Linked DNA regions of Homo sapiens: region 1 is linked to region 2. Evidence: fine-mapped expression QTL. Tissue or cell type: skeletal muscle. Region 2 holds a variant in brackets; the other region holds the start of a gene. All regions are shown on one strand. Distances are from middle to middle.

The links. PIP is the estimated chance that this variant, and not a neighbour inherited with it, causes the effect.
Region 1: it holds the start of RAB3GAP1, and the variant in region 2 is fine-mapped to the expression of RAB3GAP1 in skeletal muscle (GTEx, PIP 0.93).

What each region holds. Positions count from the first base shown.
Region 1 is chr2:135,048,636-135,056,722 of GRCh38, forward strand. It overlaps RAB3GAP1 (RAB3 GTPase activating protein catalytic subunit 1), which reads left to right and starts at 3,657. Exons shown (of 24, transcript NM_012233.3): 1 at 3,657-3,690; 2 at 3,795-3,850. The coding sequence starts at 3,673. RefSeq lists an enhancer at 4,230-4,369.
Region 2 is chr2:135,165,074-135,173,181 of GRCh38, forward strand. It overlaps RAB3GAP1 (RAB3 GTPase activating protein catalytic subunit 1), which reads left to right. Exons shown (of 24, transcript NM_012233.3): 24 at 3,472-5,637. The coding sequence ends at 3,708. Among named protein-coding and RNA genes, the nearest start is that of SNORA40B, 32 kb to the left of the region's middle. The variant C/G (reference allele first, on the strand shown) is at 3,843.

The DNA.
Region 1 (8,087 bases), 120 kb before region 2:
TGCCAGGTTATCCTAGGGTTCCAGCTTGTCTGCAATCCATGAATCTTTAAATTGGCTTCTCAAAAAGTAATCCTGGCCAGATGTGGTGGCTCACACCTGTAATCCTAGCACTCTGGGAGGTTGAGGTGGGTGGATCACCTTAGGTCAGGAGTTCCAGACCAGCCTGGCCAACATGGTGAAACCCCATCTCTACCAAAAATAAAAAAATTAGGCCAGGCGTGGTGGCTCACACCTGTAATCCCAGCACTTTGGGAGGCTGAGGTGGGTGGATCACGAGGTCAGGAGTTCGAGACCATCTTGGCTAACACGGTGAAACCCCGTCTCTACTGAAAATACAAAAAAAATAACCGGGTGTGGTGGCAGGCGCCTGTAGTCCCAGCTACTCGGGAGGCTGAGTCAGGATAATGGCGTGAACCTGGGAGGCGGAGCTTGCAGTGAGCCGAGATCGCACCACTGCACTCCAGCCTGGGCGACTGAGCAAGACTCCATCTCAAAAAAAAAAATTAGCCGGGTGTGGTGGCTAGTGCCTGTAATCCCAGCTACTCGGGAGGCTGAGGCAGAATTGCTTTGAACCCAGGAGGCGGAGGTTACAGTGAGTCGGGATTGTGCCACTGCACTCCAGCCTGGGTGACAGAGTGAGCAAGACTCCGTTCCCACCCCCCCCAAAAAATGTAATCTTCTGGCTATGCGCAGTGGCTCACGCCTGTAATCCCAGCACTTTGGGAGGCCAAGGTAGGAGGATTGCTTGAGCTTAGTTGTTTGAGACCAGCCTGAGCAACATAGTGAGACCATGTCTCTGCAAAAAATAGAAAAAATTGCTGGACGTGGTGGTGGGCACCTGTAGTTTCAGCTACTCAGGAGTCTGAGGCAGGAGGATTGGTTGAGTCCAAGAGTTTGAGGCTGCAGTGAGCTATGATCATGCCACTTCACTCCAGCCTGGGAAACAGAAAGACATCCTGTCTTTAAACAAAAAAGGAATCCTCCTTTTGTCTCTCATTTTGAGATAGAGTCATTCAAACCATTCTCTTTTTCAAGAAACTCAATGTTTAGAAATAGTGGAGGGATAGGCATACAAAACAAGGACAATATCAGGCTGCCCTAGGGCTGTGTCAAAAGCTCTAAGGAAGCATGGAAGGGGAGTGTCTGACTTCCTGGGTTGAGGGTGGGGGATGTATGTTTGCCTAGGGCTGCTTGAACAAAATGCCACAGACTGGAAGGCTTAAACAACAAAAATTTATTTGCTCACAGGGCTGGGCGCCGTGGTTCACACCTGTAATCCCAGCACTCTGGGAGGCCGAGGAGGGTTGATCACCTGAGGTCAGGAGTTTGAGACCAGTCTGGCCAATAAGGTGAAATGCTGTCTCTACTAAAAATACAAAAATTAGCTGGATGTGGTGGCACATGCCTGTAATCCCAGCTACTCAGAAGGCTGAGGCTGGAAAATTGCTTGAATCTGGCAGGTGAACGTTGCAGTGAGCCAAGATCTCACCACTGCATTCCAGCCTGGGTGACAGAGCAAGACTCCATCTCAAAAAAATATTTTTTTATTTGCTCACAGCTCTGAAGACTAGAAGCCCACGACCAAGGTATCAGCAGGTTGGGTTTCTCCTGAGGCCTCTCTCCTTGGTTTGCAGGTGGCCACCTACTCTCTGTGTCCCCACATGGCCTTTCCTCTGTGTGTGCACATCCCTGGTGTCCTAATCTCTTCTCATAAGGACACTAGTCAGATTGGATTAGGGCCCACTCTAGCGGCCTAATTTTAACTTAATCACCTCTTTAAACACCCTGTCCATAAATACAGTCACATTTTGAGGTACTAGGAGTTAGGGCTTCAACATATGAATTTTGAGTGAGAATCCAATCGATTACCACCAAACTGGTTGCAAATACAAATAAGCTCCTAACAGGGGGCAGAGAAAGTCTTCACAGAAGAGCAAATATCCAAGCTGAAACTTGAAGGACAAATTTTACCAGGTAAACTATAGACACAAGGACATTGCAGATTCTAAACGACAGCATGTCCAGAGGAAAGAGAAAGCACAGGATGTCGAAAACATTGTAGGTGCATGTTAAAAGAGGCTGTCTATTAAAAGAGAGTGGCAGACACAAAAGATGTGCTGCTCAGACCTCCCTTAAAGAAAGACTCACTGCCCAGCTGTAAGGCGTGTGGTTAGATGAACAGCCTACGGCTGTTGGGTTTATCAGGTTTGTCTAACTGTTGAGCCAAGGACCTGCTATTCTTGGAGTGCTTCCTCCAGCCAAAAACTGAGCAAACAGTGATAGCCAAGGCCACTGTTTTCTTGGGGAGATCCTGGCCAATGATTGACGGAGCAAGGCAGTAGTACAAGGGGCTACGCATTTCCTGATGCATAATTTTTGCCCTAGCACTTCCAGTTGGACTTCAGAGACTTCGCCAGCTTGGAATTGTAGTGTCTGCTTTTTTAGAGCACCAGTCTGAAAAAAAAATAGTGAAAAAGCAAGCTGCAGAGTGGGAGAAGGTATTTGCTACATATATAAACAATATAAAGCTCAGATGCAGAATATATATAAATAACTTGAAGGTGTTAAAATAAAGACAAGGCCAGGCACAGTGGCTCACACCTGTAATCCCAGCACTTTGGGAGGCCGAGGGGGGCGGATCACAAGGTCAGGAGATCGGGACCATCCTGGCCAACATGGTGAAACCCCATCTCTACCAAAAATACAAAAATTAGCTGGGTGTTGTGGCGCATGCCTGTAATCCCAGCTACTCGGGAGGCTGAGGCATGAGAATCACTTGAACCCAGGAGGCAGAGATTGCAGTGAGCCGAAATCGCGCCACTGCACTCCAGCCTGGCGACAGAACCGAGGTGGGCAGATCATGAGGTCAGGAGATCGAGACCATCCTGGCTAACACGATGAAACCTCATCTCTACTAAAAATACAAAAAATTAGCCGGGCGTGGTGGCGAGCGCCTGTGGTCCCGGCTACTCGGGAGGCTGAGGCAGGAGAATGGCGTGAACCCGGGAGGCGGAGCTTGCAGTGAGCCAAGATCGTGCCACTGCACTCCAGCCTGGGCGACAGAGCAAGACTCCGTCTCAAAAAAAAAAAAAAAAAAAAAAAAAAAAAAAAAAAAATGAAGCGTTTGTTGAACACCATGTTGCTCTTCCCAGAAACCAGGTAACTAGTATGATTTTATTTCAGGACAATCAACTGAGCAACTTCTTGCAGGGTCAGGGGCAGAGGGTAGAAGTGGTATTACAGCACCTAGTTTATTGCCTTACAATCAATAAATAGAGGGTGAATGAAAAGAAACCCAATAGTTAAAGTGTAAGCTAATTGGTACTAACTACAAATATGGGTTGAATGAAAACAAACCCAACATGCTTTAGGTTTTTTAATACAATCTTATCCACATGAGTTTAGGGTCTTGTCCTATCACCTTGGCTTCTGTTCCCTTTCTGTATTCATCACAGGAAATTTTCAAGTTTTATGAAACCAGCTAGAGCGGAGTTTTATTAACCAGCTGAGGGCGGACTAAAGACTTAACAGACCTGGGCGAAGAAGCAGCACTCCTACTTACTAGGGCAAGACTCATGAACAGGGGGCGGGGGCTCCGGGGGCGGGGACGCGCCCCGTTCTCTTTCGCTCTTCTTCCCGGCAGCCTTAGCGCCAGGCCCGGCGCTCCTCAAGATGGCTGCCGACAGTGAGGTGATTTCTTTGCTCCCTACTTAATCCTTGTCACTATCTAAATTCGTTCCTCATGTCTTCGCCTTGGGGCTTAATTTCTTTTTCTCTCCTTCCCCTTCCCGCAGCCCGAATCCGAGGTATTTGAGATCACGGACTTCACCACTGCCTCGGAATGGGAAAGGTGAGTGAATCGCATTTTTGGTTACCAGCTCCCATGGGCCCTGGCGTCCCCTAGCCGCTTCCCTGACCCCAGACACACCACAAGTGACGCCACTTGTGCGGGAACGGTAATACCGTGGGTCCCGGGTCTCCTCCCCCAGTCTTCTTTGGTCAACCGCAAGCCTCTTCCGCGTCTCGCGTCTGGCAACACCCGGCCCGCCCCCGTCAGCCAATCCCTGAGGCTCAGGCTCTCAGAAAGTTTTGTTTTCTCTCCTGTCAGACCGCTTCCCTTAGACTTTGGTTTTCTGGTTGTTACCCACTCGCAAGAAAAATTTCCGAGGCTGCAACAACCGTTCCGGTTTTCATTACCGTTTAACTCATTATCGTAAGCAGTAAACTTGGTAGGTTGTGCCGCACCTCATCCCGTGTACGTTGGTATACCCTTTTCAGGAGGAAGTCTTTCTTCAGAGTATTGGTAGTTGTCCATCTGTCACACTCCCACCATCTCCATGCTGTCTTTAATTTTTTATTTTTATTTATTTTTGGAGACAGAGTCTCAGTCTGTCCGCCCAGGCCGGAGTGCAGTGGCGAGGTCATAGCTTACTGCGGCCTCGAACTCCTAGGCTCAAGTGAAGCTCCCGCTTTAGCCTCGGGAGGAGCTGGGACCACAGGCACGCGCTATTACGCCCAACTAATTTTTTAAAGATCTCGCTGTGTTGCCCAGGCTAGTCTTGAACTCCTGGGCTCAAGCCTGGGCCGCCCAAAGTGCTGAGATTACAGGCGTGAGCCTCCGCCCATCCTGTCTTTTAGAATAACCTTTTTAAAAAGTCTGCATATGGTTTTGGAATGCTTTGATTTAAGTTGTTACATTAAAGTGGGTACTGTGCCCAGGCTTCCTGTGCCTGTCAAATTCAGATGAACAGCTGTCTGGGTGAAACTGTTCTATTACTGAAATTAGTTGAAAGCCAAGTTTGTGGAGGAGTGATAGCTTAGATCGAGAAGGTTTCTGTTAAGTGTCACAGAAACCCTTCAGTTTCCTGGGTGTTGAAGTCAGTGTTTACGCTGTTACAGCATTTTATAATCTTTCTGGTTGGGAGAGGAAATTTGTGGATGTCGTGTCATTAGGTGGCACAGGAAAATATAAAAGGTCCTTGTTGGAATAATAGTTAGACCTGTGGTACCCTTCATAAAAGTGTCAGTAAGACATAACCACACTGGCAAGACTTCATTGAGTAGGTACTGGGTGTCCAGAGCTATATACAAAGGGAAAAGCAGAAACTTGACCCATATATTTTTAAAAAACAACAAACAGCAAATAGTTAAAATGTAAGCCAGTTGGTACTACCTGTAAAAATAATAATTAAAATAATTATTATTTAAATAGGGGTGATATTGTGGACTACAATAGTTGGAGATATTTTCATAGAAAAGATAGGAAATGAGCTGGGCCTTGAAAGTGGGAAGTGGTTGGTTAAACATGAGAATGGACTGACATGGGTAGAGACATAGGTGAGAATGAATCTTTGAAGGGACTGAATGAAGAAATATATCTTCACTAGAGTGAAGACTGTCTATTGAAGGGAAATAAATAAGGTTAACAAGGAAGACGGGATTGGGTTATGGACATCTTCCCAAACTAAATACAGGAATCCAGATTCAGTATTCCTATGACCAGTGATTCTCATACTTTAATGTACATCAGAGTCTTAGATTGCTGGGCCCCATCCTCAGAGTTTCTGATTCTGTAGGTCTGAGGTGGGACTGAAAATTTTGCTTGTGTAACACGGTCTCAGGTAATTCAGATGCTGCTGGTCAGGAGACCACACTTAGAAAGAACCACTGCTTAAGACAATAGTGAGAGACCCTTCGTTTTAGAGTGGCCAGGTGATATGATGAAAGTGGTTTTAGGACATGATGTAGAATAATGGTGGGAGACTTAACTTGATTCATAATTAGGATGGTGATTTGTGGACTGGAATACAAAGGGAACCTAGAAGGGAGGATTGTAACATATTTCAGAGAAGATTTAGGTAATAAACTTGATGATACGTTAAAAGTGGGAAAAATCAAATGTGAACTGTAGTTTTTTGCCTGTAAGAATGAATGTAAGGAAGTGTCAAAGTGAGAAGATTTGAACCTGTTGATTTTGAAATAATTTGATGTCTTGAAGGTAGTTAGAAAAATGTAATTCAAATCTTGGAGGGTGGGGTAGGGAAACATCAGTTTTGAATGGAAAAATGATCACTTTCCCCTAGTTAAAAATATCCTGAAGTGGAATATTAAGTCCTTTAGCTTTGCATATGGAAATAATTATTAACACCGTTATAAGAACTATTGCAAAGTAGAAAATTTGGTTTTTGGCTTTTACACTGTAGTGTGCATTTTACAATTCATGAGAGAAAATGTTAAGACTTTGAAGTCTCAAACCTTGAGTTTAATTTTAAATGAAAGATCTTGTGAGTACAATATGTTATGAACTATATAGATAATTTATTGAGAGAACTGTATAGAAGCCCATAACTCTTTTTATCATTTGTTCATTGACAATATTTATTGAATCCCCATATGTCAAGCACAGTGCACATTACGGATTTAGGGATGTGGTGGTTAGTAAAACAGGTACGGTTTCTGCTTTTACTAAATGTGCAGTCTAGTGCATTACAGACACAAATCAAGTAATACAAGTCTGTAATTATGAGTTTATGTAAGAGCTAGAAAGGGAAAGAAACCTGGTCTTATAAGAGCCTATAACAGAGGGACCTAATATAGAATAAGGAATCAGGAAATGACCCTTCATTTCCTGAGAGCTTTTAAGGAAAAAATTACTTAGTTTTTCTAGTCAAATCTCAATACTTGTAGGATAAAGTCCAAGTCTCTTAGCTAGTACTGATAGAATTCATTATTCATACAATAAGTATTTTAAGACATTCCTGGCCGGGCATGGTGGCTCATGCCTGTAATCCCAGCACTTAGAGAGGCTGAGGCAGGCAGATCACTTGAGCTCAGGAGTTCAAGAGGAGCTGGGGCAGCATGGCGAAACCTTGTCTCTACTAAAAATACAAAAGCTAGCTGGGCATGGTGATGTGCACCTGTAGTCCCAGCTAGTCAGGAGGCTGAGATGGGAGGATTGCTTGAGTCCTGGAGGACAGAACTGCAGTGAGCTGTGATTACACCACTGCATTCCAGCCTGGGTGACAGAGTTGAGACCCTGTCTCAAAAAAAAAAAAAAAAAGACATTTCTTCTTTTACTGTAAAAACTATATTTTAAATAGTTTTCACTATAATAGTAATACCTTATAGTAGAATAAAAAATAAAAATCACCTGTAAACTTAACACCAGGAAATAACTGCTGTTAATTTTTTGACATATTTCCTTTTTTTTTCTTTTTTTGAGACGGAGTCTCGCTCTGTCGCCCAGGCTGGAGTGCAGTGGCGCGATCTCGGCTCACTGCAAGCTCTGCCTCCCAGGTTTACGCCATTCTCCTGCCTCAGCCTCCCAAGTAGCTGGGACTACAGGTGCCCGCCACCACGCCCGGCTAATTTTTTGTATTTTTAGTAGTGGCGGGGTTTCACTGTGTTAGCCAGGATGGTCTCGATCTCCTGACCTCATGATCCGCCCGCCTCGGCCTCCCAAAGTGCTGGGATTACAGGCATGAGCCACCACGCCCGGCCGACATATTTCCTTCTAACGTGTGTTAAAAACTTTTTTGGATCAAATATTAATATTTCTTTTTCTTTTTCTTTTCTTTTTTATTTTGAGACAGAGTCTCACTCTGTTGCCCAGGCTGGGGTGCAGTGGTGCAGTCTTGGCTCACTGCAACCTCTGCCACCTGGGTTCAACCAATTCTCCTGCATCAGCCTCCTGAGTAGCTGGGATTACAGGTGCCTGCCACCGCGCCTGGCTAATTTTTGTTGTATTTTCAGTAGAGACGGGGTTTCACCATCTTGGACAAACTGGTCTTGAACTCCTGACCTCGTGATCCACCCGCCTCAGCTCCCAAAGTGCTGGGATTACACGCGTGAGCCGCTGTGCCTGGCCTTTGTATATTTTCTTTTGATTGACATGATTTTTATTGGGTGCATATTAGTCCTCTGAGTGGATTAATTTACAAGTATTTCCTGCAGTTGGGCATTAAGGTAACTTCCAGTTTTTTTAGCTTCGTAAATATAGTATACATTTCATGCAAATTTTTGCTTGCCTGTGGATATATTAAATTTTTCCTCTTTGGTAAACATGTAAACTTGTTTCTAGAGCACTG
Region 2 (8,108 bases):
GGCAAAGTGGAGTCACAACTCAGCTTGAATTATAAATATAATTGTTCTTGTAATGGTGAGGAGATCTACCTTTGAGGTTTCCTAGAAAAGAAGAGGAAAACTTCAGATTTTTAGGGCTGTGGAAACAGATTTCAGCACAGAAAGAAAGCCCAGTTTGAAAAATTATCATAACCATTACCTCTAGTAGTGAAAGTAAAGATTTTAAAATTATATTGTATCTTGGTTACTGGCTAAGGGCTCTGGCATCCTACAGATAATTCTCAGTTCAGGGCTCATTAATATTAGGGATTCTGATAAAGGCGTTATGTGCACTAATTACACGCTTCCCCTTATATGGCACTGTGATTACACTAGAATGACCCAGTTTTGAGAGTGTAATTTTCAGAAACAAATAAGAAAAAGAATTTCTATGTGTCTACACGTGGAATAACAACTGGATAATCCCTGTAGAGTTGGTCTGGAGTACAACTAGTTAATATATTCAAATTCATAGCCAAATACACTGATAGGAATTCTTAGCAAGAGCTAAAATCTGAGTTTGTTTATGGGGCAGCTCCCTAAACCTCAGAATTTCAAATTAATAACCAAATATTTATTTCCTTATAAATTAGACTTCTAGCAAACAATAGATGCTTGCTTTGATTTATTTTGTTTTTCTCTCTGGCATGAAAACAAGAACCGAGTTTGGTTCCACATCTGATAATATCTATCCAGTTCACTACCCAGAAGCTTACAAGCGCATTTCCTTGTTAGCTACCAATATGAATGTTCCTCATATTGCAAAAATTCTTTCCTCTTTGATCATTTTTAATAAGTGACATGTTGGCTGGGTGCGGTGGCTCACGCCTGTAACTTTGGGAGGCTGAGGTGGGTGGATCACCTGAGGTCAGGAGTTCAAGACCAGCCTGGCCAATGTGGTGAAACCCTTTCTCTACTAAAAATACAAAAATTAGCTGGGCGTGGTGGTGAGCACCTGTAATCTCAGCTACTTGGGAGGCTGAGGCAGGAGAATCACTTGAACCCGAGAGGCAGAGGTTACAGTGAGCTGAGATCATGCCACTGCACTCCGGCCTGGGTGATAAAACTCCATCTCAAAAAAAAAAAAAAAGTTATGTGTTAAGAGGATTTAAAATGTGAAGTATTTATATTTTTAGTCCTGAGATTGTTACTTATTTTAGATAACTAAGCAAAATTATTTTCCCCAAAATAGAAATAACCTCCTTACCCCCTCTACTGACTGCAAGTAAAACTTTGACAATATAGGAACTTTTATATTTATTTATTCATTTTTTAAAGAGAGGGTCTCACTCTGTGGTCCAGGCTGGAGTACAGTGGCAAGATCATAACTCACTGCAGCCTTGAACTCCTAGGTTTAAGCAATCCTCTTGCTTCAACCTCCCAAGAAGCTGGAGCCACAGGCATGCACCACCACGCCCAGTTAATTTTTATATTTTTTGTAGGGACGGGGTCTCACTTTGTTGCCCAGGCTTATCTAGAACTCCTGGTTTCAAGCAATTCTCCTTCCTTAACCTCCCAAAGTGCTGAGATTATAGGTGTGTGTGAGCTATCACACCTGGCCTAGAAAATTATAAGAAAATATTAATCACATAATCTCACTACCCATTGATGATTTAACATCTAGTATATACATATGTATATATAATTTTAAAAGTAGGGTTATATTATATAATTACTTCATTATTCTTGTTTTCCACTTAATATACTTAAGATATCTTTCAAAATCACTAAATACAGGAACATAGTATATCATCTTTCAGTAGCCTCATTGTATAGCTAACCCCCTTAATGGCTACTGAAATTGTACATCCATCTACATTATGTCATTTAAGAAAAGATTTTAAAGTTTTCAGACCTTGTAGTGAATGTTTTTAGGGAATTGGTAGACTGTGTAATACATATAACAAGCATCTGGTTGGTACATTTTTAAACTCAGTTTTAAATGTCTGGCTGAAGTAAACTGTTAGAATTTATTCATGTAACTTTTCATTAGCTGATACTTTATATCAATTTTACTAATTAGTCAAGATTTTAACACATTTTTTTAAAAAGTTGTGATGTAATTTCACTTGGTGTTTTTATAGCTTATAGTAATTCTATATATTTATAACTTTTCTTTAAAATTATAAATAGTAATAAGCCTTATCATGATTATAGGTATCTCTGGTATGTACATACTTAAATGGAATTCAGCAAATAAATGACTGACTGGATTTCGCTTCAGACTTGCTAGATTGAATAACTGTTAGGCACCTATTCCTAAATTCTATTTTTCAAGCCATGAACACTTTTTTTTTTTTTTGCATCATAATTCCCAGTAAAAGAGCTAGGTTTTTGTTGTTCATTTCTCCCATTAAATGACATCATATGTCACCTGTTGAGCCATGGATGCATGAGTAGTAGTAGATGTCTGCTGTAGTTGACAGCTGGGTGTGCTGTGTTTGGTGTGACTTTGTCTTGAATATTCTTTTGATAGGATCATGTTCCATAATGTAGTGCATACTGTCTTTGAAATAATCCTGAACTCCCTTGTCTAGCCCTATTTAAACCATCTTGCTTGTTTCCCTTTCATCACTGTTTCTTTTCTTACCCCTTCTCAAGCTGACTGAATCTTCTGATGAGGTAACAAAATAGCCTTTGCCCCTCATAGTTCCTTGTTCCTTCCCATCCCTCTAATTTCATAAGGTCATTAACACTAACCACCTCTCTCACAGTCTGGATTTGGCTTACCTACCTTGCTGATGTTTAGCGCAACATGATTTCATGTTTCCATTGCCAAAACAATTTTTTTTCCCAAATTGATGGTATTAAAAAAAGTACAGTAATCAGAATTAAAATTGTAGGCTGTAAATGAACATGCATTTTATGTCATTTCAATGAAAAAATAGATGCCTTTAATATTGCGAACTTCTCTTTTGTGGTCATTGCTATATGGGCCTCTATCACTTCGGCATCACATTAGCTGCCCAGCAAGCAAGACCAATGCCCCCACTTTTAATTTGGCAAGTGAACCTTAAAAAGAATCGATTAAAAAATTCTTACCCAGAGTCAAGATGAAAATCATCTTTTCACTCTGGAGAAAAACAGCTCCTTACTGGACTGAGGCTGTCAGACGTAGACTTGGGTCATTGCTGGAAGAAACATAGAAAGCAGCACAGCTCCGAGGTCCTTTTTCATCAGATGTGTAAATATGGCCTTCTCTCTTCAGAGCAGATTGCCTGGCAGTCATCATCCCTCCTGTCTGTCTCCAGCCCGGCTGCTCATGCAGTGTCTCAAGCTTCTTGCATTTGCTGTGTTATGTGGTTTTTGAGTAATCTTAACATATAGCTGACTGCATTACTGAGTAACGTGGGACATTTTCATATCTTTATTATGTTAATTCATCTGTCCTTCAAAAGCATCTGAGTTTAGCATTTGACCTGCTTTTGACTTTAGCATTTGATTCTTTTCCAGGCTGCAGCTATGACTCCACCAGAGGAGGAATTGAAGAGAATGGGCTCCCCAGAGGAAAGAAGGCAGAACTCCGTGTCAGACTTCCCACCCCCTGCTGGCCGGGAATTCATTTTGCGCACCACTGTGCCGCGCCCTGCTCCCTACTCCAAAGCTCTGCCTCAGCGGATGTACAGTGTTCTCACCAAAGAGGACTTTAGACTTGCAGGTGCCTTTTCATCAGATACTTCCTTCTTCTGATTCTTCTAGCATTACTCGTTGGTGGCTTCAGAGACAGTGCTGCCTCCTCCTGAGGGAGGGAAGGTACCAGGGAGAACCTGGGAGGTCCTGGAGAGGGCCCTGTCCAGTTGGGTGATCAGGAATCAAACCAGCAT[C/G]GGAAAGACTTCCCAGCACCAAGCTTGAGCTGTGTCGTTTCGTGGAGGGGGCAGCGAGGATGGGCTTGAGCTGTTGAGAGATTTCTGCCCTAGAGATGGCCTTTGTATATGGGGGGGTGGTGGGGGGACACAAACACATCAGACACTCCGTCCTCACACTGGCAGGACGGTGTTCATCGCATTCTCTTCTGTGACCAGCCTCTAGGCTAGCGGCTGCATTCGTGGTCTGTGCAAACACTTCGTGGTTCTATATATCAGCAGCAAGTGTGCAAAATAAAGGACCTGTTAACTCAGATTTCTGGATATTTTGGTGGTAGCTTCTAGTCCCAGAATCTGTGTTTTTAAAATACTACATGACATTCTGTCTATTCAATCACCTGGTGGTCATCTTTCTTGTACTAATTAACTGTTGATGAGCATTTTGGATATTCTAGGAGAAAGCCTATAATTTCACATAGTTTCTCTTTTTCATGTAACTGTAACCTAAATGTATTACTTCTGATAAAACTATATATCAAATGTCACTGCAAATTAGTTTTATATCTGTCATGTGAGATTTGTCTTACTTATTTTTCTTTTGGTTGCCATGGAAGTTATGGCCCTGAAAATCGTCTCCCTCCCCTTCTCTTGCTGTACAGCATGCGTTCTCTTTTTGTGGTTGCTGGCTGGGTACTGTATTTAATGAAGTAGAGAATAGCACTTGCAAAAATACAGTCTTGGTACCTAGAGACTGTCATGCAGATAGTATAATTTGGTATATGTGCTAATGCATTGAGTAGAGGATTATTTTAACACACTATTTTGCTTTTGTATTTTAGTTAAAATAATCGATGGGGATGTGTAGCCCCCCCGTGTGAGGATGACATCACCACATTTCTAGTTTCATGGAGCTCAAGATGTCTTGTGTCTGTGTGGCTAGATGGCCTCTGCTTGGTAATCTTATTTTTAGGCCTAAAATTCCCACTTAAATCCAAAGTAAAAATGGTTATACTGAAGCATAAACCTTGCCTGTGTAATTTTAAAAAATTAATAGAGCTGTGCAAACCCTGTTATTTTTGTAAAAAAAAAAAAAAATACATATCTATATATAATATGTGTGTGTGTGTGACATATGCACACGTCTCTGTGTATGTGAAGTAGGGGAGGCCCTGGGGGATGACCTCCCAGCCTTTATGATGCTTTTCTCTATGCTGCTGGACTTCATTCTTACTGGTCCACGCAGATGCAGGCGGCCTGAGGCCAGTGCTGTACCAAGTAGAAGACGGTTCCTAAGGACAGAGTTTGTCTGTTTTCTAACAAAGAAAAATTCTACAAAGGAGAGGTTGGGCGTTACAAAGGCATTGTGAATCTAATAAAAGGAAAGTGTCGCTTTCTGTGGCGTTTTCTTTCATTTTCTCCCGCTGAGGCATTTCAGTCTAATTTCATGTGGTTTTGTGCTGTCTCAGCTCTAATGTTTGCAGCCTGCTGAGCCTAACAAGGCAGTGGTCTCAAGAACATTCTTTGTGCCTTTTTAAAGTACTCCATTTTATTTTTATGATAGTTATGTATTTATTTCACAGATATATTTAAGTACCCACTTTGTGTCAGGTACAGTACAAGCAATGAAGATAAAACAGAAACCAAAACACACTCCCTTACAGGGAAAACTGACACCACGTTGCCACAAAATGTTGAGTATAGTCAACTCTGCTGTGTGGATCGGAGGGCCTGCATTTATCCTACAAATAATTGAATGTAATCCTACATTCATGTATTCATTGGCAGTACGGAGTAATAAATGCAGCAATGTCATAAAGTGTTGTAGGAGTTTCTTCACCCAGGCTTTGAGGATCAGGAAAATTACCCCAGAGGGTGTGATTTTGGGATTGAGACCAGAAGCTGAGTAGGCACTGGGGAAAGCATGGGGGGCGTATGGGAAATGGCTTGCAGAGAACCAGGCATTCCTCCAGCCCTGTGTGCAATGAAATCATGATTTTCATTGTGAAGTGCTTTATTTCTCCACCTCTTCAATCTGGTCTCGGCCATGTCTTTCTTTGGTCAACAGACAGAGACTTGACAAGTCCTTGCACATTGGGGCTTGCCCTCCCTTCTTGCCAGGAGCCTTGAAGCCACTGTGAAGAAGGCCACTCTAGGGTGAGAGTTGGGGCAAAAGGTAACTGACAGGAGGGGGCAGAAAGCGTATTACAAGCAGAGGAACGGAATGGGCAAAATCCCAGAAATAAGGGAAAATGTCTATTTGGGGGGCAGCCAACATTTCTATTTGGCTGAAGTGTGGTATCTAGAGTGGGAAGGGGCAAGAAATGAAGATGGTGAGGTGAACTAAGGCAAGACCAAGAAGTTCGGGGGAAGCCGCAGCTACAAGTTAGGGCTTTGCCTTTGGGGCGGTAGTGAGTCACTGAAGGGTTTTGTGCAGGGGAGTGACATGGTGGGTTTTAGAAAGGCCACACTCTGGCAGGAGAGGAGATGCTAAGAAAGTATACAGCTGTCGTATATCTTGAGCTAAACTGTCTGCTCCTTAGAAGAAAGGTGGCAATTACAACTGCAATGTGTTTTTTAATCCACCTGTGTGCCTGAGACCGTGCTCCTAAGAGGTGCACATGCTTGTGAAATGGCCTCTCCAGGGCCCTCCTACCCCCATACATTCCTATACCACTGTAATAATTCAGATTTTTCTTCAAGTTGGGGTATTTTAAAACCCTAAGCATTTATGTTTATATTTCATTCATTAGTCCAGCAAATGTTTATTGAGTACCTGCTATGTGCCAGGTACTGTTCTAGGCATCAGGGAGACAGCAGTGACTAGAACGTGGAAGACCTGGTGCTCAGGAAGCTCACAGTGTGGGACACCAAGTGTCAGCAGTGGGTCTAGGAAGGGAGTCTGTCTTCTAGGAGGTTTGATAAGGGAGGGGCTTACGAGGCAGTGACACTTGGGCAGAGACTGAAGTGAGGAAGCAGTCCTGTATATAGATGACTAGGAGAAGACTGCAGACAGGGATTGGCCAATGAAAAGCCTGAGGCAGGAGTGTACCCGGCACGTGGGAAGCACAGAAGGAAGGCCACTGTGGCTGAAGGGGAGTGAGGGGAAGAGGGGCAGGAAAGAAAGTTGCACACGTGCAAGGGCCAGATGTGTAAAGCTGTAGGAGTTGAGATTTGTTTTCTTGATTAAGAAGGGAAGCCATTGGAGAGTTTGAACCAGGGAATGTCATGATGTGACATTTAAAAATCTCTTTGGGGCTGGGCGCAGTGGCTCGTGCCTGTAATCCCAGCACTTTGGGAGGCCGAGGCGGGCGGATCACATGAGGTCAGGAGTTCGAGACCAGCCTGGCCAACAAGGTGAAACCCCGTCTCTATTAAAAGTTAAAAAAAAAAATTAGCTGGGCATGGTGGTGCACGCCTGTAGTCCCAGCTACTCTGGAGGCTAAGGCAGGAGAATTGCTTGAACCTGGAAGGTGGAGGTTGCAGTGAGCCAAGATCATGCCATTGCACTCCAGCCTGGGCAACAGAGTGAGACTCTGTCTCAAAAAAAAAAAAAAATCCCATTGGCCACTGTGTGGAAAATACACTGCAGAGGCTGGGGTGGAAGTAGTGAAACTAGTGAGACGAGGGGAGGTGAGAGCACTCTGGACTGGTGTGGTAGCCATGGAGGGTAAAAGGGATCAGATTTGATACAGATCTTGAAGGCAGAATGTGCAGAATTTACAAATGGATTCAGTGAGGGTCTGAGAGTCAAGGATGACTTGAAGGTTTGGGACCTGAGTGAATGATGCTGTCATTTACTACGATGGAGAAGACAGGGAAGAGCAAGTTGTGGGGCTGCTGCGAGTGATGAATTTGAGCTTGGGCCATGTTAATTTTTAGAGGTTTATTAGATGGCTGTGGTGGCCAGCCTCCTGCCTCCAACTCACACACCCTGTGAAGTCCCCCAGACCCACACCCATTGTACCAGGGTTAGTCTCTGAACAACAGAACATGGAGGAAGTGTTGGTATGTCACTCCCAAGGTTGGTTATAGGAGCCATTGCAACTTCTATTTTGGTTCGTAAAGAGAGGCCCACATGGTGCGGAATGGAAGGTCCCTGCCAACAGCCACATGAGTAAGCTTGGAAGTGGATCCTCCTGGCCTGCAGGTAACTGCAGCCTCAGGAGGGACCTTGGGCCTGGACCACCAGCTAAGCCACTCCCAGATGACTGACCCTCAGAAACTGTGTAAGATGCTTATTTTTAAACTGCTAAATTTGGGGGTAATTTATTATGCAGCAATAGATAA